Linked DNA regions of Homo sapiens. The protein of the gene in region 6 purifies or fractionates together with the protein of the main gene of each other region. This does not show direct contact. Each region holds a gene or a part of one and is shown on either strand. Other genes may lie near its edges. The genes, in order: RAB10, ZDHHC18, RHBDD1, LCLAT1, UGGT1, TMEM63C and PLD1.

Region 1 (3,500 bases), on a different chromosome or scaffold from region 6:
AAAAATATAAAAATTAGCTGCATGTGGTGGCACGTGCCTGTAATCTCAGCTATTCCAGAGGCTGAGGCAGGAGAATCTCTTGAACCTGGGAGGCGGAGGTTGCAGTGAGCCAAGATCGTGCCACTACACTCCAGCCTGGGCAACAGAGCGACACCCTGTTTCAAAAAAAAAAAAAAAAAAAAGACTAGGTGAAGAATTCTTAGACATAACACTAAACACATGATCTGTAAAAGAAAAAAAAATCAGTAAATTAATTAGACTTTCACAAAATTAAAAGCTTCCTCTCTACAAAATACCCTGTCAAGGGAATGAAAAGACTAGCTACAGACTTGGAGAAAATATTTACAAGCCAGTGTATCTGACAAAGGACTTCTGTATAAAAAGAACTTTCAAAAGTCAGCAGTAAAAAGACAAAAAAACTGACAATCCAGGCCAGCCACGGTGGCTCACGCCTGTAATCCCAGCACTTTGGGAGGCTGAGGCGGGCTGATCACCTGAGGTCAGGAGTTTGAGACGAGCCTGGCCAACATGGTGAAACCCCATTTCTACTAAAAATACAACCGTTGGCTGGGCGTGGTGGTGGGCGCCTGTGATCCCAGCTACTTGGGAGGCTGAGGCAGGAGAATCACTTGAACCCAGGAGGCAGAGGTTGCAGTGAGCCGAGACTGTGCCATTGCACTCCAGCCTGGGCGGCAAGATCGAAACTCTATCTCAAAAAAAAAACCCCAAAAACAAAAAACTAACAATCCAATTAGAAAATGGGCAAAAAAAAAAACCAGACATTTCACCAAAGAGGACATGTGGATGGCAAATAAACACATGAAAAAATGTTCACCATCTTAGCCACAGGGAAATACAGATTAATGTGATGATGAAATATTACTATGTGCCCTCTTAGAACTACAGAAATAAAAAAGTGACAGCATCAAATGCTGGTGAGGATGCAGAGAAACTGGATCTTTTATATGTTGCTAGTGCAAATGTCAAGTGATAGAGCCACTCTGGAAAAAGTTGGCCAGTTTCTTACCGTTATACACTTACCATATTACCCATAAATAACATTCCTGGGCATTTATTTCAAAGAAATGAAAAATTATGTCCACATAGAAACCTGTAAATGAATATTCTTCGAACTTTGTTATAGCCAAAAACTGGAAACAACCCTGAATGTCCTTCCATGGGTGAATAATTAAGCAAATTGTGATACAGACATACCATAGAATGCTACCCAGCAATGAAATGGGACAGACCAGGATTATGTGCAAAACTTGAGAGGACTTCAAGAGCATTATGGTGAAAGAAGTGTTAAATGCCGATTTCAAAAGGTAGCATACTACATGATTCCACTTACGTAACATTCTGGAAATGAAAAAAATATAAACATAGAAAACAGATTATTGATCAGAGTTTAGGGACTATGGGGAGTAAAGAGGTGATGTAATAGTTCTTTGTCTTGTGGTAGTTACACAAATCTGTACATGTAATAAATTGTAGAGAACTATATATACACACATACACAAATAAGTGCATGTAAAAAAAAAAAACCCTGAAATCTTAATAAGGTCTGTAGATTGTATCCAATGTCCATTTTCTGGTTTTGCTATTATGCTGCAGTAATATAAGATGTTATCATTAGGAAAAGCTGGGTGAAAGGTACCCAGGACCTCTCTGCACAGTTTTGTAACTTCCTGTAAGGCTGTAATTATTTCAAAATAAAAGTTTTAAAAATATTAACTCGAAAGAGGAGCAGGGATAGTTGGAGAGATACAGGGTTGAGATTGGGGTCTTTTGCTTTATATTTATTTATTTATTTATTTATTTATTTATTTATTTATTTATTTATTTTGAGACGGAGTCTCGCTCTGTCACCCAAGCTGGAGTGTAGTGGCACCATCTTGGCTCACTGCAACCTGTGCCTCCTGTGTTCAAGCAGTTCTCTTACCTCAGCCTCCCGAGCAGGTGGGATTACAGGCACGTGCCACCATGCCGGGCTAATTTTTGTATTTTTAGTAGAGATGGGGTTTCACCATGTTGGCCAAGTGTCTTGAACTCCTGACCTTAAGTGATCTACACGCCTCAGCCTCCCGAAGGGCTGGGATTACAAGTGTGAGCCACTGCGCCCGACCTTATTTTTGCTTTTTTAAAAAAGATACTAAAACATGTTTGTAAGCTGATGAGATGATCCATAAAAGAGCAAAATGATGATACAAATGAGAGGGCATAGTTACAGGAGCAAAATACATCTTACACCTTTGGCTTTAAGCATTAAATAATGGAAAATACTACTATTTACATTTCTGTCTTATTATTTATAAGTGAGGTTATCTTTACAACTTTTGGTTAATGATTCTAAATGTAAATATGACTGTACTATGGTATAGTTCTCTAATGTTCTAAAAATCCTACCTGCTTTTGTGTTACATTATGGAACTAAATTATTAAATAAAATGAAATTTTAAGAGTTTCTATGGTGTTTGCTAGTGCTTATTCAATAAACTTGAGTTTTATGTGTCACTTCCTACTGTTTTCCCTTTCAGATTTTCATCCAGTATGGGTAGGTTATTAATTTCCTTCAACTAAAAAGTTTTTATATATACTTAGGAAAAACTATTCTTGTTTTGTCCTTTATGTGAAATGTAGTAATATCAAAATGCTTAATAGAAATTATTGGCTGTTTATTTCAGGGATACAGCAGGCCAGGAGCGATTTCACACCATCACAACCTCCTACTACAGAGGCGCAATGGGTATCATGCTAGTATATGACATCACCAATGGTAAAAGTTTTGAAAACATCAGCAAATGGCTTAGAAACATAGATGAGGTAAGACCTAGAACTTGTATAAACCCTTCATGAACACACATTTGTGTGCTTGGTTAGGAAGAATAAATATTCCAACTGATCTTCAGGATATAATGTACTGTTGAAGTCATTATTATTGAAGTATTTCTATTTTCTAAAAGTTAATGTTGGCCGGGCATGGTGGCTCATGCCTGTAATCCCAGCACTTTGGGAGGCTGAGGTGGGAGGATCACCTGAGGTCAGGAGCTAAAGACCAGCCTGGCCAACATGGTGAAACCCCATCACTACTAAAAATTATAAAAATCAGCTGGGTGTGGTGATGTGCACCTGTCGTCCCAGCTACTCAAGAGTCCAAGGCAGGAGAATCTCTTGAACCTGGGAGGTAGAGGTTGCAATGAGCCAAGATTGCGCCACTGCACTCCAGCCTGGGCAACAGAGCAAGACTCCGTCTCCAAAAAAAAAAAAAAAAAAGTTAATGTTGTTATTTGCTAATTTTTTCTTAAGTTTTTGGACAGTCTATCTAGAGCCCCATTCAAGACAATTAGTAAATTACTCCAAAACTCTGTATAGCCATCTTACAAGATGACCCCAAATAGAAGCTACCAGTGATTTTACAATGATTTTCTGGAAATGAATTTTTTCTTAATAAATTTTTATTGAATGAATGAAATGTCCGGTAGTAATTTTTTAAAACTTTA
Region 2 (3,500 bases), on a different chromosome or scaffold from region 6:
CCTGGTATGCAGTAGGTGCTCAATACTTATTGAATGAATGAATTGACAGTGTATTTGAATTAATTGACAGTGTATTTGCTGGGAGGCTGGAAACCCTAGTTCTGTCATTGGCTGGCTAGATGACCTTGAACCTAGCTGTGGGCCTGGGAGAGCTGTTAGCCTCTGGCAAATCAGGAGGCTAGGACTTGGTGGTTCCTGCAGGCTCTACAAGTCTTAGATTTCAAGTCTTCTCTGTCCCCCCACACAAGTCTGATTGCATATGAACTGGATTCATTGCCATGTGGGTGACACTGAGCGCCCACTGGTTCTGTTTGAGGGTCAGACCCAGAAACCATTGAGATGTATGGAGCAGAGTGTGACCCACTGGGAGCCCTTGGCCTTGGCAGTCTGCTCCTCAGGGGAAGGGCTTCTCTGAAGGCCAGAGCATCTGATGACGGAGACTTCAGAAGCAGCATGCAGGTGCCCACAGGTGTGTGCCTACTGTGCCACTCCTGGAAGCTTGGTTGATCTCAGGCCTCCCAGGGCCCCGTCATCTCCTTACCTGATCAGGTGCTACTCTGGCTATGGGGTGATGGTTAAAAGTATGAACCTCAAAGTCAGACCTGGCTTGGGTCCCACTTTAGCACTCCTGAGCCATGTGACCTTGGGCAGATTACTTAAACTCTCTGAGCTCTAGTTTCTTCATCTGTAAAGTGGGGAGCATAACTTCACAGGGTCCCAGTGAGGATTTGATGAGAAAGTACACAGGAACTGCTTAGCCTGGTACCTGGCCCATCCAGGTACAGTAGTACAGTAACTATCTGTAGATAGTACAGTAACTATCTACATAGTACAGTAACTATCTGTACATAGCACAGTAACTATCTGTACTTTGGATGTTGCTAACAGTAGTTTATTAATTAGGGCAGTGTCTGGCACATAGTAAGCCTTCAAAAGATGGTAGCTATTTTTCTGTCCCCTGGCAGCAGTTATTTACCGGGTACGTCCTTGGTGCCAGGTGCTGTGCAGTGTGCTGGAAATATAAAGCTGAACAAGAGAACATAGTCTATACCCACAGAGGAGCTTATGTTTTTTTATGTTTGTTTGTTGTTGTTGTTGTTGTTGTTGTTGTTGAGATAGAGTTTTGCTCTTGTTGCCTAGGCTGGAGTGCAATGGCACGATCTCGGCTCACTGCAACCTCTGCCTCCCGGGTTCAAGTGATTCTCCTGTCTCAGCCTCCTGAGTAGCTGGGATTACAGGCACATGCTACCACACCCTGCTAATTTTTCTGTTTTTATTAGAGATGGGGTTTCATCTTATTGGTCAGGCTGGTCTCGAACTCCTGACCTCAGGTATCCGCCCACCTCAGCCTCCCAAAGTGCTGGGATTGCAGGCGTGAGCCACTGCGCCTGGCCAAGCTTATGTTTTAGTGAGAGAAAAATAGCCATCACATAGACAAGTAGCTGAAATCTATACTAAATGTTATACAGGAAAGAAAGAGCATTGAAGTTCACTGTGTACAGAGTTGTCAAGGTAGGTCCTTCTGAGGAGGGAAGAGGAATCTGAGAAAAGGAACAGCAAGTGCAAAGGCCCTGAGGTAGGAGAGAGCCAGGCTTGTTATAGGAACTGTCATGGGCTATTGTGATGGGAGGAGCAGGAGCAAGACGAGAGTTTTGTAGAATGAGGCTGAAGTCCTCAGTAGGGCCCAGATCATGCCTGGCCTAGAAGGCCATGGTAGGGAGTTTGGATTGTATTCAAACTATATGGAAAGCAATTGGGAGGTTTTAAGCAGGGAAATGACATGATCTGATTGACATTTCCAAAAGTGGCTCTGGCTTCTGGGTGGACAGTGAGGTGACAACAGAGAGGATTGGCCATAGAGAGAGAGCCCTGATAGCTTCACTATCATGAAGCCATTCTCCCACCAGTGTCCAGAACTTCTAGAATGTTCTAGCCCTAAGATGGAGGAGGGAGCTTGAAGAGGGCTGTGGTAGGCAGCCTCCCTGGGGGACAGAGGCATGACCATTCAGCAGGCACAGGCTATTCTCTGAGGCAGCCAGGGTCAGGGGGTCTGAAAGCACTGCCTTGGGGATACCTGCCTACCTTGGGTCACAGTGACAGTGGCTGGACCATGCAGTTCCCCCAGCCCTCTACTCATTCTTCAGGTTGGAGCTTAGGATTGTCTCCTTCAGGTTGCCTTTCCTGACTGTGCTACTGCGTTCCCCTCCCCCACTAGAGCACACATCACCCTGTGTGGCAATTCCCTGTTTACATGTCTTGTTTTCCCCACTAGACCATAAGCCACAAGGGGGAGGGACTCTTGTCTTATCCGTCGTCATTATTCCTGCTGCTTATTGAAGGTGTTGCCTGCCACAGAGAAGACCTCAGTAAATATTTGTGGACTGAGTGAGTGAATGAATGAGTGAATGAACACTGCAGGATGGTTTGTCTCAGGTGACAGTCCACTAGTGTCTGCCTGAAGCTCTGTGTGTAGAGGGATTCTCTGGATGCAGAGGTTAGGAGTGCTGGGATCTATTGGACACATCTGCCATGTGCTCTGGAGGAAAGTATATCACAAGGATCAATTAGTGATGTCTGTTCCCGGTACTTATTGGGGAGTGGCTGCACTCATCAAGGAGCTGTGCCTCTGCCTCAGAGCGAGGCTGTATTCAAGATTTTGGTGGTGGTTGTTGGAATGACAGCGCCTGCCACGTGCTGTAGCCCTGTGCCGCAGGGAGCCCTTGGGGTGTCTGCTGATCTCTCTCCATCTCTCGTTCTAGCTGTCCCTACCTGGCTCGCAAGCTGACCCTTGCCATCCCCATCATCGCTGCCATCCTCTTCTTCTTCGTCATGAGCTGCCTGCTGCAGACAAGCTTCACCGACCCTGGGATCCTGCCCCGGGCCACTGTCTGTGAAGCAGCCGCCCTGGAGAAACAGATCGGTGAGGTTTCTACTCCCAGCTGAAGCTGGGTCTCCATAGCTCCACATTCCCTGACTTGGGAGGAGGCCTGGTTTTCTCTTCCAAAACTATACTAGGAACTGGGGATGCAGTCGTGAGCAAGGCAGGCTGGAGCTGACACTGGCACAGAGGGAGACAGATGATCAACAAGTGAGCAAATAAGTAAGCAAGAAATGCTGGCCAGCCAGCAAAGGCCCCGATGGCAGCCAGCGTGGAGCTGAGTAGTTCCTGGGGGCTAGGCACTGTTTTAAGCTCTTTATATGCATGATCTTATTTAATCCCCCAGTAATCCTATGAGGTAGGTACTGTTGTCATTCTCCTTTTACTGATTAATTAAATCAAGGCAAAAGAGGGTCCAAGATCACAAAGTAAGTAGAAGAGCTGAGATGAGACCTCAGTCTAGAGCACCTGCTCTTAAACATTCATATACACTTATTCATTCACTCATCAAACATTTATTGACCCCCTACTATGTGCCAGGCACTTTTCTAGATGTGATACAGCAGTGAACAAAACTGACAATAGTCCCTGTCCTCATGGAGCTTGACAGTTGAGGAGGAGG
Region 3 (3,500 bases), on a different chromosome or scaffold from region 6:
AACCCAAGATCAGATGTTCTGACAGCACATGCAGCTCAATGAACAAATTGCATTTACATTCATTGTGCATGTTTCACTTTCAGACAGCACACAAGGTCAAACTACTAACTGTCAGTTACAATAAGCTTCTAAACTTCTGGTCAATTACCTGGCTAATAACAAAAGACAAGGCTATGACATCATTATGGTTATAATTAATTTACACAGATCAGCTTCCTGTTAATCAAATATATCTTTAAAAGCATTTAATTATTTTTCACCTAGAAAGCAACATTCAGCTTTGTTAAATGAAAAGCAATCTTGCTGAATTTAACACGAAAGGCTGTCAGGCTGCTCTAAGACATAAAGAACAAATGGCTTCACAGGGCACACTGCTGCAATACAGGAGCTGTTGCCACATTCCCAACAAACAGAAGCACAAGATGATGGATAATACAACACATTTTAACAGTTTCAGAATATAAAGAAGTTGTCAGGGAACTGAAAGTAAAGAGATGGGCTTTGGGAAAAGAAATGTCCCAGTGCTTTTTGCCAAAATTATATACAAGGGTGGCAATATTAACATATGCAGCATAGGACAGCAGTTAAGGGCATGGTCCTTGGCTCTACGATACACCAGCCACGTGCTCTTAGGAAAGTTAACCTTCAGAGTTTCACTTGTAAAAGATAACATAGGCTCATTTGGTTTCACAAGGATTAAATGGGATTATATATGTATATATATTTATTACACAAAATCACAAATTGTGACAAATCAGACTTAAAATAGTTTTAAAATGTTTTTGTGATAACATAGTAACTAATTAGCATTTTCCATGACTTTCTGTGACCCTACATTTTAAAACTGCATAGTGTGATTAAATTACACATGCATTTTTTAAAAAGTATAACAAATATAGAGAAGAAACCTGAAAGCAGAAATTATGTTTTTCATTAAAATAAACTTTATGTAAAATCTCAAACCAGGATCTCTGTCAAGATTATCTGATGATTTGAGAATTTAATAAGCCTCCATTTTAGGAAGAAAAAAAAAATGTCAGCATCAGCTGGCAAAATTCTTTCTCCACCTTTTAAAAGTGTTATATAGTATAAATGAAAATGATTAGACTATATTTATACATAAAAAATAATGGCTAAAAAATGAAATTACCAGATTTTGTATATAATCTTAAATTTTGCTCCACTGCTAGGTGAATTAGTGCCAACTCCAATTCTGACCCATCACCATTTATGATTTCCAGTATCAATCATAAGCCAGTTTCTTCTCTCATAAACCACACGGTTTAGTGTAATGAGGGCTCATTAAAGTTCTCCAACTGACAGCCCTTCAGACCTAGGTTTTTAAACCAGGAGGCACACAGGGAACAGCAATGCCAGCGTCCCATGATCGCTCCTTCAACAGGATTTAAGTAGTTCCATATTCAGGTTTACTCTGCACCAGATTTCTTTGTCTACCTAAAGTCAATGAAAAAATGAGAGCTACCACCACTCCCTGCTCTCATTTAAATTAATCTGTGTAAGAAGTGTTTGTGAATTATTTATGTAACTCAAGTCTTCCCTGCACAACAACTAGTGAAAAGGGGGAAAAGCATGCCATGCTTCAAATATATGTTATATTACCACAAACCACATGGGATGTCCACAAATTATTAAGTGATAGGGAACAGCTTAGGGCTTTTTGCCTGCATAGCATCAATACTTCATTCTTTCAGTAACAGGAATCTGTCTCCCACTCCCATTGGATGCGGTCTTTGGCAAGGGGCCGGGGGGCGGGGGGCAGCTATCAATCAAGGGTGCCATTTCCAATACTGATCCAAGGTGATAGTGACCAAAGTTGGAATAATAACTATTTCCCTGGAATTTAAAAGTTGTGCTGAGAAACTATGTGACCAACAACTTTTGAAGCTGGTTCTCACAGCATTAATTTGAAGAGTTTTCCAGATCTACCAAGTCTCCCCAAACCTCAAGAGCTCACTTAGCTGCTGACCTTTATGCACATAAACCAGAAAATCTAGAAGAAATGGCTAAATTCCTGGACTCATACACCCTCCCAAGACTGAACCAGGAAGAAATTGAATCCCTGAATAGACTAATAAATGAGTTCTGAAATTGAGACAGTAACAAATAGCCTACCAACCAAAAAAAGCCCAGGACCAGATGGATTCACAGCTGAATTCTATCTACCAGGGTACAAAGAAGAGCAGGTATCATTCCTGCTGAAACTATTCCAAACAATTGAAAAGGAATGACTCCTCCCCAACTCCTTCTATGAAGCCAGCATTATGCTGATACCAAAACCTGGCAAGAGATACAACAACAAAAAGAAAAATTCAGGCCAATATCCTTGATGAACCTCAAGGCAAAAATCCTCAACAAAATACTGGCAAACTGCATCCACCAGCACATCAAAAAACTTATCTACCACGATCAAGTTGGCTTCATCCCGGGGTGCCAGGTTGGTTCAACATATACAAATTAATAAATGTGATTCATCACATAAGCAGAACTAAAGACAAAAACCACATGAGTATCTCAACTGATGCAGAAAAGGCCTTCGATAAAATTCAACATCCCTTCATGTTAAAAACTCTCAATAAACTAGGGATTAAAGGCACTTACCTCAAAATAATAAGAGCCATATATGACAAACCCACAGCCAATATCATATTGAATGGGCAAAAGCTAGAAGCATTCCCCTTGAAAACCAGCACAAGACAAGGATGCCCTCTCCCACCACTCCTATTCAACACAGTATTGGAAGTTCTGGCCAGTGCAATCAGGCAAGAGAAAGAAATAAAGTGTATTCAAATAGGAAGAGAGGAAGTGAAATTATCTGTTTGCAGATGACATGATCCTATATCTAGAAAACCCCATTGTGTCAGCCCAAAAGCTTCTTAAGCTGATAAGCAACTTCAGCAAAGTCTCAGGATACAAAATCAATGTGCAAAAATTGCTAGCATTCCTATACACCAACACCGGCAAGCAGAAAGCCAAATCATAAATGAACTCCCATTCACAACTGCTACAAAAAGAATAAAATACCTAGGAATACCGCCAACAAGGGAAGTGAAAGACCTCTTCAAGGAGAACTACAAACCACTGTTCAAAGAAATTAGAGAGGACACAAATGGAAAAACATTCCATGCTCATGAACAGAGAGAATCAATATCATGAAAACGGCCATACTGCCCAAAGTAATTTATAGATTTAATGCTATTCCCATTAAACTTTCATTGACATTGTTCGCAGATTTAGATAAAACTATTTTATGGAATCAAAAAGAGCCCAAGTAGCCAAAACAATTCTTAGCAAAAAGAACAAAGTTGGAGGCATCACACTACCAGACTTCAAACTATACTAAAAGGCTACAGTAACGAAAACAGCATGGTACTGGTACAAGAACAGATACATAGACAGATGGAACAAAATAGAGAACTCAGAAACGAGACCACACAACTACAACAACTTGATCTTTGACAAACCTGGCCAAAACAAGAAAT
Region 4 (2,740 bases), on a different chromosome or scaffold from region 6:
AGCAAACCTGTTAGTTTTACTTCTGCATTGAACCAGCCTCAGAAGCTACTTACTGCTTTATGTACTCTTTGGGCATTAATGCCTTCTCTGTAATTATATCTCGTTTTTGCTTGACAGTGACCTACCCAATAATTGCATCGTGCATTGCCATGAAAGGTAAACACATTGTGAACTGAACTTACCAAGCAGATTCTGTGAGAAAGCACTGGTTGAGGCTGAACACTGTTGACACATCATTTTTATTGGAAGAGTATTAACTGGTGCCTCTTCTGAAACACACCAACCCATATTCCTCTGCTCCCCCAAAGCTGTTTCTGATCCTGCTGGGAGCAACTAACTAGTTATTATGCACATCTGCTCCAGACCCAGCTCTTTAACTTCATGGTTTTACAGCTTGTTTTTTCTTTTTCTTTTCTTTTTTTTTTTTTTTTTTTAAAAAAGCACCTTTTTTTGTTGTTTCCCCTTAATAAAAGAGGTTTCTAATTTATGTTTCTCTAAGATTTCCTTTGGTTGTATTTAGAAACACAAATAGTTTTATAATCAGGATTGCATTTGTGCTGGGTAAAAGAGGAGAGCTGTGCTTTCTACCCCAAAGTTGTTGGTAATGGAGCCGGTCTGCCCTTCCTACAAACTCAAGAGGCTCATTGTTCAAGGTGTAACAACATTTAATTGCATGTCCTCTAACGCTTTGAAACCTTTAGAGGGAAGATCCTCATTTTTTACAATTTTGTTCCTTTTCATCATAGAAAACATGTTTAAGATAAAATACAAACTTTACCTACCCCAAATTCATAAAGTACATTTAGTGCTGTATAGCACTAAAACTTAGAGATACAGACACTGTACTTACTTTTTAAGAATTAGAGACAGTAACTCCAAAAATAATTGTCCTTTTTTCTTTCTTTCTTTTTTTACAATAAGGCTCTTGAAAATTGTCATTACTTGTGTTTTCCTATACATTCATCTGTGTGAAAGCCTTTTTCTTCTTTGATTTAAAAAAATTAACTATACAGTTAATGGTTTAGAACTTAGAACTACTTAGAATTAATGCTAAAGTGTCAGGAAGAAATTAATTTAGCTTCAATAATTGTGACTGGCCTCAGGAATTCTCCCTTCCACACCTGCCCACCTCACCTCACTGCACCGCACCGCACCAGAGCCAGAGCAGCTGCTTGTCTGCAGCAGGACACAGTTCCTACATACGTTTCAGTTCTTTCATGGTAAGCTCAATGGACTTTGAATTGTTTACAGTGCTGTATGTCCAATTGTTAAATGTACCATTCTGAACGATGTTAAAGCAAGTGTGGTTTATTTATGGCATGAACCATGTAACTTGAAATATGAACTTACAAGGAGGGGCACTCATTAGGTAACAAGTTCTTACACCAAACTTCCTTGATGAAATAAGCCAAAATAATCCTAAAATTCATTAGAAGAACTTGATAAAAGACTCAAATAAATGTTAGAAAGAGCCCGTAATTTTAGGACTCCTATAAAATTCTTCCTTGTTTGTTAATGCTATTAAAACTCAGATTCAAGGGAAATACCAGCTTCCACTTGAGTCACTTTGAAATAGTTAATTCAACAGCACCATGTTAGAAATATATTGGCAGCCAAGACTCTGAACTCTGCAGAAACATTTGTTTCACCCAGACTTCAAACTCTAGCCCTGACTATGATGCCCCTGTGTGCATTTACAATAAAGACTCCAACGGAGGGAGCCTGTTGGTGTTAAATTGTTTACATTTCTTTATACAAATAATGTGCTTTCAGTGCCTTAGTTACAGCTCCCTTTCTGTTTCTTGTTCCAAGGATTCTGTAGTATGTAGTGTGTTTCTTAGGTAAAGTCTCTTTTTGCTACTGAAAGGGAAATGGTCTCTAAACACTGGTCACTGTAGCAGGTAAACACTACTCTAACGTGGAGAAATGAGCTTCATGCTGAGGTAGTGGTTGCCTTAGAGCTGTTATTTATGCTGTAGAAAACGAAAATGGTTTTGCTACCTGATAAGCTTCAGATTAGATATAGCCCTAAAGTTATCCTGTACCTGCATTAAATTTTCATTTTAGAAGAGAATCTTGGTTTTGGTAATTCATTTTTTTTTAAGATCATTATGTGCAAAACACCAAGTTTTAAAAATAACTCACAGAATGGCCTTAGTTTTCAATGTCTGATGGTATATTTGTGAGTTGTGTTATCTGTAATATACATCCCAGAATAAAGGAGTGAATTAAATAGTTTACATGTGTGTTACGTTCTGTTTTTGCAGGAATAACAAGTAACTGCAAGTTAAGGTGCTACTTTTTTCCCCACAATGCCTTGCATTGCAGTGTCTAGTGTTAAGGAAAAACCTGGCCAGTTAGGTCTCTTTTTTCCACAGATGTCAAGAAAAGTGGCCTAATCAAGAAAACAATGTACTACCTCCATAATAGGAAAAGTCCAGGCACCACAATTGAATTAAGGACTCAACGAATGTCATCAGAACTTGATTTTCCTCCATCTCTTAGCACAGCCTTGCTATTGAGAACAATTTGGTTGTTCCACAAATGTGGGATCTTATATAAATATCAGCATGACCAACTCTTACCTAAGATAAGTGGGACTCTGTGCTCCAGTCCCTGACCTCACGTTGGGGAGTATATAACTATAAAAGCAAATCTTGGACCAAAATCTGACAAATGTATAAAAATGTGCTTAGCAAACAGACAAACACATGAGAATCACGGAGCCTCTTGTAATGGG
Region 5 (3,500 bases), on a different chromosome or scaffold from region 6:
TCTAGGTTTTGGCTCAGCTGATAAACATGAATCTGAGAGTATTTATGAACTGCCAATCCAAACTTTCTGACATGCCTTTAAAAAGGTAAAACATGCTATGTAAGAAAACAGTTGAAGAAATTGTACTGAATCCAAGTTCTGATATTGCATGTTAGAGGATCAGATGGATTTATAGGTGGACATCATGTTTGAAATGGTCATTTACTAAATGTTCAGTTTTGCCAAATTTCATTCTAATCAGAAGTTCTAAGAACATAGTGTGTTTGTAGCATTTAGGTGGCATTAACCCAGGCTGCTTGCATTTGTGCCTTTTCTTTCTTTTTTTCGAGATGGAGTCTCGCTCTGTCGCCCAGATTGGAGTGCAGTGGCATGATCTTGGCTCACTGCAGCCTCTGCCTCCCGGGTTCAAGGGATTCTCCTGCTTCAGCCTCCTTAGTAGCTGGGATTACAGGTGCACACTACCATGCCCAGCTAATTTTTGTATTTTTAGTAGAGACGGGGTTTCACCATGTTGACCAGCCTGGTCTCGAACTCCTGACCTCAAGTGATCCGTCTGCCTCACTTCCCAAAGTGCTGGGTTTACAGGTGTGAGCTACCACGCCTGGCCCCATTTGTGCTTTTCATCTTAAAAGAAGAATATTCATTTCAAGTTGGAATATACATGTTAGAGGAAGCTTGCTTAGCTATATATTGTCATGAGCTTTGGAATGGTCATTTATGAAAAAAGTGATACAGAAAGCAGTTAGCGTTGTGGCTATGGGAAATTTCTAACTTGCCAGTGTGCTGTGTTTTATAGGTTAGCTTCTAAGTGGATTGAAACAGCATTTGAAAGTAACCAAAGGGTTCCCAGCTTCCACCATTATTCTCGTATAGGGGAAATGTTTACATTATTAGTGTTTTCAGGACTAGCCTGAGAGCCCAATCAGTATTTAGGAATTGGTTTTAAAGAGAAAAATGAGTCCTCCTTGAAGGGAGGAAAATGCCCAGGACCTAACTGTGACCCTGACAGCCATCCATGTGAACGAGTGGCCTCCGTTCAAGTGATTGGATTTTGGCTTGCAGGTGGACAGTATAGTGGCTGCTGAGTATGAGCTAGAGTACCTGTTACTAGAAGGTCATTGCTACGACATCACCACAGGCCACCACTGAGCACTCCTCCTCAGTGCTGTCCTTGTTTGCCTTTTCTTGCATCTGCAGCAACCACAAGGAGGCATCATAAGGTCAAAGATGGTTTTGGAAACACTTTTCCCAATCTGGAAGGGTACTCCTCCAAATCTAATTTGTTTTAACCAGTTGTTACCTGTGTAAGGGCTGTGCACTCAAGTCCTGTTGTCACATCGAAAATTATCTAACACTTTCCTTTTCAATTTCAGCTTTTACCGTTATGTCTTAGAACCAGAGATTTCTTTCACTTCAGACAATAGTTTTGCTAAGGGTCCAATCGCAAAATTTTTGGATATGCCTCAGTCTCCACTGTTCACTCTGAATTTGAACACACCTGAGAGCTGGATGGTAGAATCTGTCAGAACACCATATGATCTTGATAATATTTATTTAGAAGAGGTAAGACCATATCTATTGCTTCCAAATACCTAATCATGTATAATACAGCAGATTGAATCATAGTCTAGGTGGGCCTCTGAGACATCAGTGTTCAGGTATGATATTTTTTTAAACAACAGCTTTATTCACATGGAACTCATATACCATAAAATTCTCCCCATTAACGTGTACAGTTGAGAGGTTTTAGTATCTTCACGGAGTTGTGCAGCCATCACCACTATGTAATTGTAGGATGTTTTCAGCATCCCCAGTGAAAGCCCCATACTCATTAGCAGTCACTCTTCATTTCCCCAGCCCCTGGCAACTGCTGGTCTACTTTGTATCTCTATGGATTTGCCTATTCTGACATTTTGTCTAAATAGAATCAAATGTGGTCTTCTGTAACTGGCTTCTTTCACATAACAAATTGTTTTCAAGATCCATCCATGCTGTAGTATGTATCGACGCTTCACTCTTTTTAACTTGCCAGATAATATTTTATTTATGGACATATCACGTTTCATTTATCCTTTCACGAATGGACATTTGAGTTGTTTTCACTTTTTGGTTGTTATGAATAATGCTGCTATGAATGTTGTGTGCAAGTTTTTCTACTGATACGTGAGTACAGGATGTCTTTGCATTTAGGTCTTTAATTTTTTTCAACATTTAGTATCTTATCCTCGTTCGTATTTTTAGAATAACGTCCTTATTGTTTTTTTCTCCTTTCTCTTTCCAACCTAGTTTTTATAATTGTATACAGTCATTAACCACCACTATAGCCACGATGCAGAACATTTCCATTACCCCAAAAAGTTCTTTTATACCCCTTTGCAGACAGTAGCCTCCTCTCGCCTGGTTTCAGGCAACAACTGATCTGCTTTCTGTCATTATACTTTTGTCTTTTCTTGAATTTCTTAAAATATGATCATATATTATGTAAGTCCTTTTTGTCTGCTTCCTTTACTTTGCATAATGCATTTCAGATTTATTCATGTTGTCTCTGAGTGCATTCAAGTGATTGGATTTTGGCTTGCAGGTGGACAGTGTAGTGGCTGCTGAGTATGAGCTGGAATACCTGTTACTGGAAGGTCATTGCTACGACATCACCACAGGCCAGCCTCCACGGGGACTACAGTTTACCTTAGGAACTTCAGCCAACCCGGTCATTGTGGACACCATTGTTATGGCCAATCTGGTAAATAATCTGTTCATCAGATAGTGATATTGTAGTTACGTTAATTTGGGCACTATAATTTATGATGGAGCAATTAGCATTCTTAACCATAGAGTGAGATTAAAATTCATTATGGGCTGAATTTGGTCAATATAGAAATCATTAGTTCAGCTAAATTTGTAGGTTAGAATTACATGTCAAAAGAAAAAACATGCTGGAATACTCAGCTATAACTGAATTGGCCCCCTGAAAATAGATTGCTCATGAGCTGACAGCCTTTTTCTTTTCTTTGGAAGTGCAACACTTATTCATGCATCACACGTTGATTCTTCCCTGAAGCACAGCTAAAGAGCAGATGATTTATTGGTGTGACTGGCCTTTATTGTACTAGTTTTTTTTTTTTTTTTTTTGAGACTCCTGCCCAGGCTGGAGTGCAGTGGTGTGATCTCAGCTCACTGCAACCTCCGCCTCCCAGGTTCAAGCAATTCTCCTGCCCCAGCCTCCTGAGTAGCTGGGATTACGGGCACCCACCACCATGCCCGGCTAATTTTTGTCCTTTTTTAGTAGAGATGGGGTTTCACCATGTTAGCCAGGCTGGTCTCGAACTCCTCACCTCAGTTGATCCACCTGCCGTGGTCTCCCGAAGTGCTGGGATTACAGGCGTGAGCCACCGCACCTGGTCTGTGCTAGAGTTTTTAATGTGTAGTTTTGGTTTTTTAAGAGTTGCATTGATTTGTTTACTGTGTTATTCACATTATAGTTGATTGATATTTCAGAAATA
Region 6 (3,500 bases):
TTTCACCATGTTGGCTGGGCTGGTCTCAAACTCCTGACCTCAGGTGATCTGCTCACCTCGGCCTCCCAAAGTGCTGGGACTACAGGTGTGAGCCACCATGCCCTGCCGTATTGCCCACATTCTTAATGCAAGAAAATGCTAAATTTCAGTTAGAGATTAGTGAAAATAAAGATGTTATTTTTTCCCATCCTAGTTTACAGACCCCCCAGAAACCCACTCATGGATTCTCCCGAGTCTTTGGACCTGGCTCAGACACCCTTGCTTTGGATCAAGCCAATGCATGTATCCCCTAACACACCCATGCTTTATGTGGTCCCTGCCCCTCCCTGCTCAGGGGACTGCTTGTTAACTTCATTGGGTTGGGGACATATATATTATAGGAGAGAGACAGAGAAAAAGAAAGAGAGGAAATGTTATTCTCCTTGTCTGTATCTGTATCTCCACTCCGATTCCCATTCCCTCTGCTGCTCTCCTCTCTCTCCTCCCTTTTAACATCTCTCCCTCTCCCTGTGGCTTCTGTTGCCACCTTCCCTCTCCCTCACTGCCCAGGTGTGTGTTCCTGCCAGACAACGGCGCCTTCTTTGTCAACTACGTGATCACGGCAGCTTTACTTGGCACAGGCATGGAGCTGCTGCGTCTGGGGTCACTCTTCTGCTACAGCACCCGCCTCTTCTTCTCTAGATCAGAGCCAGAGAGAGTCAACATCAGAAAGGTACAGACTGGCTCTCCGCTGAGCACAGCCCTCAGTTTCCTTTGGGAGGGTGTCAGGGATAGAGCCTGCTAGAAGCACCAAGGGGGTTGAGGTGGGAGGGACGGTGTGGATGGGTGTTGGTGGGGCACCTTGGTCTACAGGGTTGGAAAGGAGGCTGCCTCCAGGCCTGAGCTGCCAGGAGGCTGATGAGGAGCCACAGAAGTAGTCAAGCCAAGGGGACTGGGCCACCTCAGGGTGACACCTGCCTTCTGCCCCAGAACCAGGCCATAGACTTCCAGTTTGGGCGTGAGTATGCGTGGATGATGAACGTGTTCAGCGTGGTGATGGCGTACAGCATCACTTGCCCCATCATTGTGCCTTTTGGTGAGTCATCTCCAAGGCATGCCCAAGGGCTGCACATCCGCAGATGGGGAGGAGGAATTGAGCCTCACAACATCAGTCCACCTCCTGGAGCATGGGGAGACCTGTGGTAGGGAGGGGTCAGGGCCAGGGCCAAGCTGGGGGTACAGGGCAGCTGAGGTTGGATGGCTGCCGATGGGGGATGTTTGTTGAATGAACGCATGAGAGAATGACTCTTCACCAAGCTGAAACAGTCAGTTCTCGGGGCTCAAGGGAAGCTGCTGGCTCCGGAGGTCAGTACCACGGAGCTCCCCCAACCCATCCTTGGTTGTTGTGACTCTGACAGCCGTGGATCTGGCTTCTCAGGCCTGTGGAGACACTGGAGCCACAAAGGTCCAGACTTGAAGGGGCCACTGAGTAAGTTTCCACCTTTGTCCCCCAGGGTTGCTCTACCTGTGCATGAAGCACTTGACGGATCGCTATAACATGTACTACTCCTTTGCACCCACCAAACTGAACGAGCAGATCCACATGGCTGCCGTCTCCCAGGCCATCTTTGCGCCACTCTTGGGTCTGTTCTGGATGCTGTTCTTCTCCATCCTGCGGTTGGGTAGGTACCAAGCCAGCCTGGAGACCCCACCTCCACCTGCCCCACTGTTCTGTGAGTCCCTTAACACTGACCCTGTTAGAGGAGAAAAGCCCAGGCAGGGCAAGACGCTGCTCACCAGACCTGGCCACACCCAGTGACTTCTCTGGGCCTAAAGGGCCTACATTAGAGTCTCAGCTGAGCTTCAAGGCTAAGAGGAGGCCCTGGACCAACATGGTCCCCAGGTGTGGATTTGGGTTTCCAGCGCTCAGGGAAGGAAACCTCATATTCCTTCTTTCTAAGTCTAGACGGGTGGAAAATAGAGTATCAGCTATTGGGAGGCTCAGTTCCCATGACATTTCCTCTGGGATCCCATAAGATGCCTGGTTTTTTGTTTTGTTTTTTAATTTTATTTTTTGAATCAGAATCTTGCTCTGTCGTCTAGACTGAAGTACAGTGGCGCGATCACGGCTCACTACAGCTTTGACCTCCTGGTCTCAAGCAATTCTGCCACTTCCCCCTCCCCAGTAGCTGGGACTACAGGCGTGAGCTGTCATGACTGGCTAATTGTTTTTAATTTTGTAGAGATGAGGTCTCACTATGTTGCCCAGTCTGGTCTGGAATTTCTGGGCTAAAGCGATCCCCTGGCCTAGGCCTCCCAAAGTGCTGGGATTATAAGCGTAAGCCGCCGGTGCCTAGTGGTAGATGCCTGGCTTTATGGGTTGCCAAAAAACCTGGAAGAGGAAACAGAGCCTGCAGTAGGGGCCAGCTTTTTCCTCACTCTTTAGCTACACACAGCTACTGCTCCTGCCCAGGGGAGCTCAGAGACACCCTCCCAGAAGCAGTCCCTGCAGGCCACAGATTAGAAATCTCTCAGCTTTCTCCCCGTTGGAGGCACCTTAACCCCCAGCAACCCCCAACCCCACTGCCCTTCCCTCAGACACCTGACCTTAACCTTCTCAGTGGTGGGAGAAGGGAGACGCGGTGTTTTCTTTCTTTTTTTTTTTTTTTCTTTTGTTTTTAGAGACGGAGTCTCGCTCTGTCGCCCAGGCTGGAGTGCAGTGGCCTGATCTCGACCCACTGCAACCTCCGCCTCCCGGGTTAAAGCTATTCTCCTGCCTCAGCCCCCTGAGTTGCTGGGACTACAGGCGGGTGCCACCACGCCCCGCTAATTTTTTGTATTTTAGTAGAGACAGGGTTTCACCATGTTGCCCAGGCTGGTCTCGAACTCCTGAGCTCAGGCAATCCGAGGCAGTGTTTTCTTTTCTCTCCCTGCCATGGTGGCATCCATACGGTCGACTCTCAGTCATTTATGTGGCTTACCCATTTGCCATCACCCCCAATTGCTTATCCCGCTAGCCTTTCCCTGCCACCCCAGAGACTTCATTTTTTCCATAATGCTTTTTTTCTAAGAATAAAGGACTGCATGTTTATCATCAAAAATAGAAAAAATATAAAGACCAACATGTAAATGACCCATCATCTTACCCAGAACCTGATGTCTTTTGTTCCCAGCCCCCTTTCCAGGCATGCGCTTTGGGGCTTTGGGCATGGGAACATTGAGAGGGAGCAGTTGGTCTATTGTTACTTTGCAAAACTGCGATAGTCCATATTGTAACATTCAGTCCTGTACCCTGAGGTTTTGTACTGAACACAATGTTCTGAGCAATTTCCTAGGTTGTTAAAAGACTGAACACGTAGGTGCCTTTCAGCGGTTGCATGAAAGTCTACCAGTTTTAGTCAGTTCTCCGTGATTGGATATTGAGGTTTGCCACTTTTTGCTACTATAAAAACACTGCAGTAAGCATCATTAAGCAGTGATTTTTGGCTGTAAAGCATAATTTAAACAACATTTACCTAGTT
Region 7 (3,500 bases), on a different chromosome or scaffold from region 6:
CTACATCTTAAGACCCAGATATAGGAAATGCAAAAGTATTTATTTCGGCATCTCAGACTGAGTGTAGAATGTGGTAAATACATATAGGTCTATAATCTCTCATACAAAATCCTTGGAATCAGATTTCAGAAATCAGAAAGTTCTGGATTTTAGAAAGGTAATACAATACCTATACCCTCTACTATATTACACTCCCAGCAGGATCCAGGAAATACCTGGAATGTAGGCAAACCATTTATGTTTGTGCAACACCAAGTGGGATCAATAAAGATAATAAATAACCTCTTGTCAGTTCAGGTCAGATTTTGCTGACCTGTGAGTTATGAAATGAGCTGTGAAAATCAGCTATGAAAAAACATTTGAATTGTTAGAACTTTTGGAGTTTTGGAATTGTGGTTAAGGGCTGATTTGTGCAGATTGAGCTGGTGGGATATATCTGTAGCAGTTTACGGAGGACTTTGAAAATCAGACTGAGACATTGCACCTCTTCCATTAAATGTTGGAAAATCCCTAGGGGCAGGGAGCAATTAAGGGTGAGGCTTTATAGCGTTTATAGTAGAGACACAGGGAGTCTGACAAGGTTGTGTCAGTGAGTTCAAGAACGAAGTAAATGGGAGAAACTTTTTCCAAAAGCAGAATCAGCAGATTTTCATCATGATCTGGGAAGCCGTGGGGAGGTGGGTGGAGAAGTCAGCGAAGAATAAAGGAGCCAAAGGTGATTCCGAGGTTTGAGCTTGAGTTACTACACACAGACAGCAGAAATCTCAAGGAAAGACTTGATTTTATGGAATGATGATGATTTTAGTGTTAGACATAATTTTAAAGTTCTGGAGGGAACTAGGTAAACAATGTCAAGTGAGGCACTGGAAGTGACCTTAGATTTGGAGTCCAAAACAGAAGCCATCCTTGCAGGTGCACATTTTAGAAATTGTATAGAAAAAGACAGGAGAGGCCGGGTGTGGTGGCTCACGCCTGTAATCCCAGCACTTTGGGAGGCCGAGGCAGGCAGATCACGAGGTCAGGAGTTCGAGATGAGCCTGGCCAACATGGTGAAACCCTGTCTCTACTATCAAATACAAAAATTAGCAGGGCATGGTGGTGTGCGCCTGTAATCCCAGCTACTCGGGAGGCTGAGGCAGGAGAATTGCTTGAACACTTGGCCCTGGGAGGCAGAGGTTGCAGTGAGCCGAGATCGTGCCACTGCACTCCAGTCTCAAAAAAAAAAAAAAAAAAAAAAAAAAGAGGAAGAAAAAGAAAACAAAAAGACAGGAGAAAGGGGGAAACCTTGTTAGTGAGGAGGAGCTAGGAAAGAAGAACAAGGATAGGCTGGAGAAATGGTAGAAAAATGGAGACCTGGAAGCCGAGAGATGAGAATAGAAGGAGGAGGATGTGGCACGACCAGAGGACACCAGGCAAGGAACAAGAAGTCCCCCTTCTCATAAACTTTAGTAGCCAGAATCTGAGCCACTGACAGAGGAGGATGCAGAAAATTGGCCTGACAAATCTGTGCCAAAAGACAAGGCAGGTGCAATTATGAAATCATTTGGGAGCCAGATAGCAGCCTAACGAGACCCCCTTGGATCAGCATTGTTGATGCCATAAGTCCTCTCGACCACACTCATGTAATTCTGAGCTACTGTTTTCACAGGAACTAGTATTTGGCTCTATTGCCTTAATAGTTCATTTGTACTGAGGAGGAACCCTAATTTATGTGGAATAGTTTTTAGGCCATGGCTAAAAACAAAAACAAATTTGAATTATGAGCAGGTTGAATTCAATTAGTACCAAGATAATTTCCTGAGACTAAGAATTTCCTTTATTTTCCTTATCATAACTGGTTGTTAGGTGAAAGATAATTTTTAAATGAGTGTATATGTGTTTATGTAAAGCCTTAGCTTAGAGTTTTGCAGTTGATGAAAGCAAATTGTATATGTGTATTTTATATTTGAAATTTGAAATATTGTTTATCTCATTTTTCATCCCTTTTGTTTCTTTTCTCACCCTCTTTTCTTCTTTTAACAAAGTGCTATGTAAACAATAAAGAGCCTATAGATGAGCAAACAGACCTACCCGTACTTTGGCCTTTCAGTCTCATAAAGCAGGAAAATAAATCACTGGGAGAAGTCAATAGAAGTCTATTTTTAACATGATTTCATTTTGCTAATCTATGGCATTTTAAATCATTTTTCTTCTGTAGAAAACTTTAATAGCCTTTGAAAGGTTAATGATTCAGTTTGAGATAGAATATTAGCATTGTGTGTGGTGATTACATAAAAACATTTGTTCTGCAAATATTTATTGATTGCCTGGGTGCTTGGAGCTACTGGCAGTGAGAAGATTTGGTTCCCACTCCCAAAGAGTTTATAGACTGGTGAGGCATTGATGCGGGCAGGGGAGCATCCTGATACAATTGCGTCACAGAGTCAGAGGTGTTGGGGCAGTTGTTAGTGGGATGACAGCAGTGCTAGTGACTGCCTCTTCCTTATGGGGAGATGGCAGGTGATAGCTAATGTGGCTCTTGAAGGATGATTAGGATATCAGGCCAAGAGGGAGAAAGGAGCATTTCAGGTAGAAGTAATAATGTGCCAACTGCATGGAGACATGGCAGTCCACACCTGTTATAATACAGTGAAACACGTGATTTGCATGGGGCCTGGGGTTGGGTGGGGAAAAACAAGGACTAGAAAGATAGATTGGCACCAGTTTGGGAAGAGTCTTCTATGCACACTAAGCCCTTAGGACTTGAGCTTCCTATAGGCAGTATGTGAACCTTCCAGGGTTTTAAGCAAAGAGTGCATTTTACAAAGACAGTTCTGGGACAGTGTGTTGGTGGCAGGACCAGTGTAGTCCTCTCACTGGCTACTGCAAGCAGTACCATTTATTCATTCAACACATATTTTTGCATTCAGTGTCTATTTGTTAAATGCCTCTTTTGTGCCAAGTGCTGCGTTTGTGATTTGTAATTCTGCATCTTTTTACTTCATTGTCTTTGTATTTAGCCGTAAGTCAATGGTCTCGGCACAGTTATTTGTGAAATGCTATAGTAGATTGCTGCTTTTGCACCTATATCATAAGCTTTCATCTGTTGTTACCATATTTTTTATAAATGCCATCTATGATTTGAAGTATATAAATGTTAAAGCGCAACAGATTTTAGCTGTTATCTAGGCCAAATTCTTCATTTTACGCATAATGGATTTATGATCTAAAAAACTGAAGCTCAGTGTCACTTAGCTAATTAATTCCAGGGCTGGAACATGGGCTATCTGTAAATTTGAGGTTCTTGCTTTAATGCAAAAGAATTATGCATCAGGTGTGCACCATGTTGGTTGAGGAAAAAGAAGTGGCATGGTGTCTTTATTGCCCCTGCGTCTCAGGTTTCTCCACCTCTCCCCTCCCCGCCCTTCCCACTCTGCCCCTGAAAGCCCCCCACCAGCTTTACTGCTCTCATAGTGCCACCTTGTGAGTTCTTTATTCACAGTTAATTCTGTGATAGTTCT

Evidence for each region.
Region 1: the proteins of TMEM63C (region 6) and RAB10 purify together in Homo sapiens (affinity purification with mass spectrometry; one large-scale study listed by BioGRID and IntAct). This does not show direct contact.
Region 2: the proteins of TMEM63C (region 6) and ZDHHC18 purify together in Homo sapiens (affinity purification with mass spectrometry; one large-scale study listed by BioGRID and IntAct). This does not show direct contact.
Region 3: the proteins of TMEM63C (region 6) and RHBDD1 purify together in Homo sapiens (affinity purification with mass spectrometry; one large-scale study listed by BioGRID and IntAct). This does not show direct contact.
Region 4: the proteins of TMEM63C (region 6) and LCLAT1 purify together in Homo sapiens (affinity purification with mass spectrometry; one large-scale study listed by BioGRID and IntAct). This does not show direct contact.
Region 5: the proteins of TMEM63C (region 6) and UGGT1 fractionate together in Homo sapiens (co-fractionation; one large-scale study listed by BioGRID). This does not show direct contact.
Region 7: the proteins of TMEM63C (region 6) and PLD1 purify together in Homo sapiens (affinity purification with mass spectrometry; one large-scale study listed by BioGRID and IntAct). This does not show direct contact.

Annotation. Positions count from the first base shown.
Region 1 is NC_000002.12:26,107,084-26,110,583, forward strand, and holds part of RAB10 (ras-related protein Rab-10), read left to right. Parts: intron 1-2,684; coding exon 2,685-2,823; intron 2,824-3,500. UniProt on the Homo sapiens protein: The small GTPases Rab are key regulators of intracellular membrane trafficking, from the formation of transport vesicles to their fusion with membranes.
Region 2 is NC_000001.11:26,829,688-26,833,187, forward strand, and holds part of ZDHHC18 (palmitoyltransferase ZDHHC18), read left to right. Parts: intron 1-2,759; coding exon 2,760-2,920; intron 2,921-3,500. UniProt on the Homo sapiens protein: Palmitoyltransferase that catalyzes the addition of palmitate onto various protein substrates, such as CGAS, HRAS and LCK. Acts as a negative regulator of the cGAS-STING pathway be mediating palmitoylation and inactivation of CGAS.
Region 3 is NC_000002.12:226,842,554-226,846,053, reverse strand, and holds part of RHBDD1 (rhomboid-related protein 4), read right to left. Parts: intron 1-3,500. UniProt on the Homo sapiens protein: Intramembrane-cleaving serine protease that cleaves single transmembrane or multi-pass membrane proteins in the hydrophobic plane of the membrane, luminal loops and juxtamembrane regions.
Region 4 is NC_000002.12:30,641,986-30,644,725, forward strand, and holds the end of LCLAT1 (lysocardiolipin acyltransferase 1), read left to right. Parts: 3' UTR 1-2,240; downstream 2,241-2,740. UniProt on the Homo sapiens protein: Exhibits acyl-CoA:lysocardiolipin acyltransferase (ALCAT) activity; catalyzes the reacylation of lyso-cardiolipin to cardiolipin (CL), a key step in CL remodeling.
Region 5 is NC_000002.12:128,171,200-128,174,699, forward strand, and holds part of UGGT1 (UDP-glucose:glycoprotein glucosyltransferase 1 precursor), read left to right. Parts: intron 1-5; coding exon 6-85; intron 86-1,373; coding exon 1,374-1,563; intron 1,564-2,581; coding exon 2,582-2,740; intron 2,741-3,500. UniProt on the Homo sapiens protein: Recognizes glycoproteins with minor folding defects. Reglucosylates single N-glycans near the misfolded part of the protein, thus providing quality control for protein folding in the endoplasmic reticulum.
Region 6 is NC_000014.9:77,247,798-77,251,297, forward strand, and holds part of TMEM63C (osmosensitive cation channel TMEM63C), read left to right. Parts: intron 1-549; coding exon 550-712; intron 713-969; coding exon 970-1,075; intron 1,076-1,493; coding exon 1,494-1,661; intron 1,662-3,500.
Region 7 is NC_000003.12:171,677,984-171,681,483, reverse strand, and holds part of PLD1 (phospholipase D1), read left to right. Parts: intron 1-3,500. UniProt on the Homo sapiens protein: Function as phospholipase selective for phosphatidylcholine. Implicated as a critical step in numerous cellular pathways, including signal transduction, membrane trafficking, and the regulation of mitosis.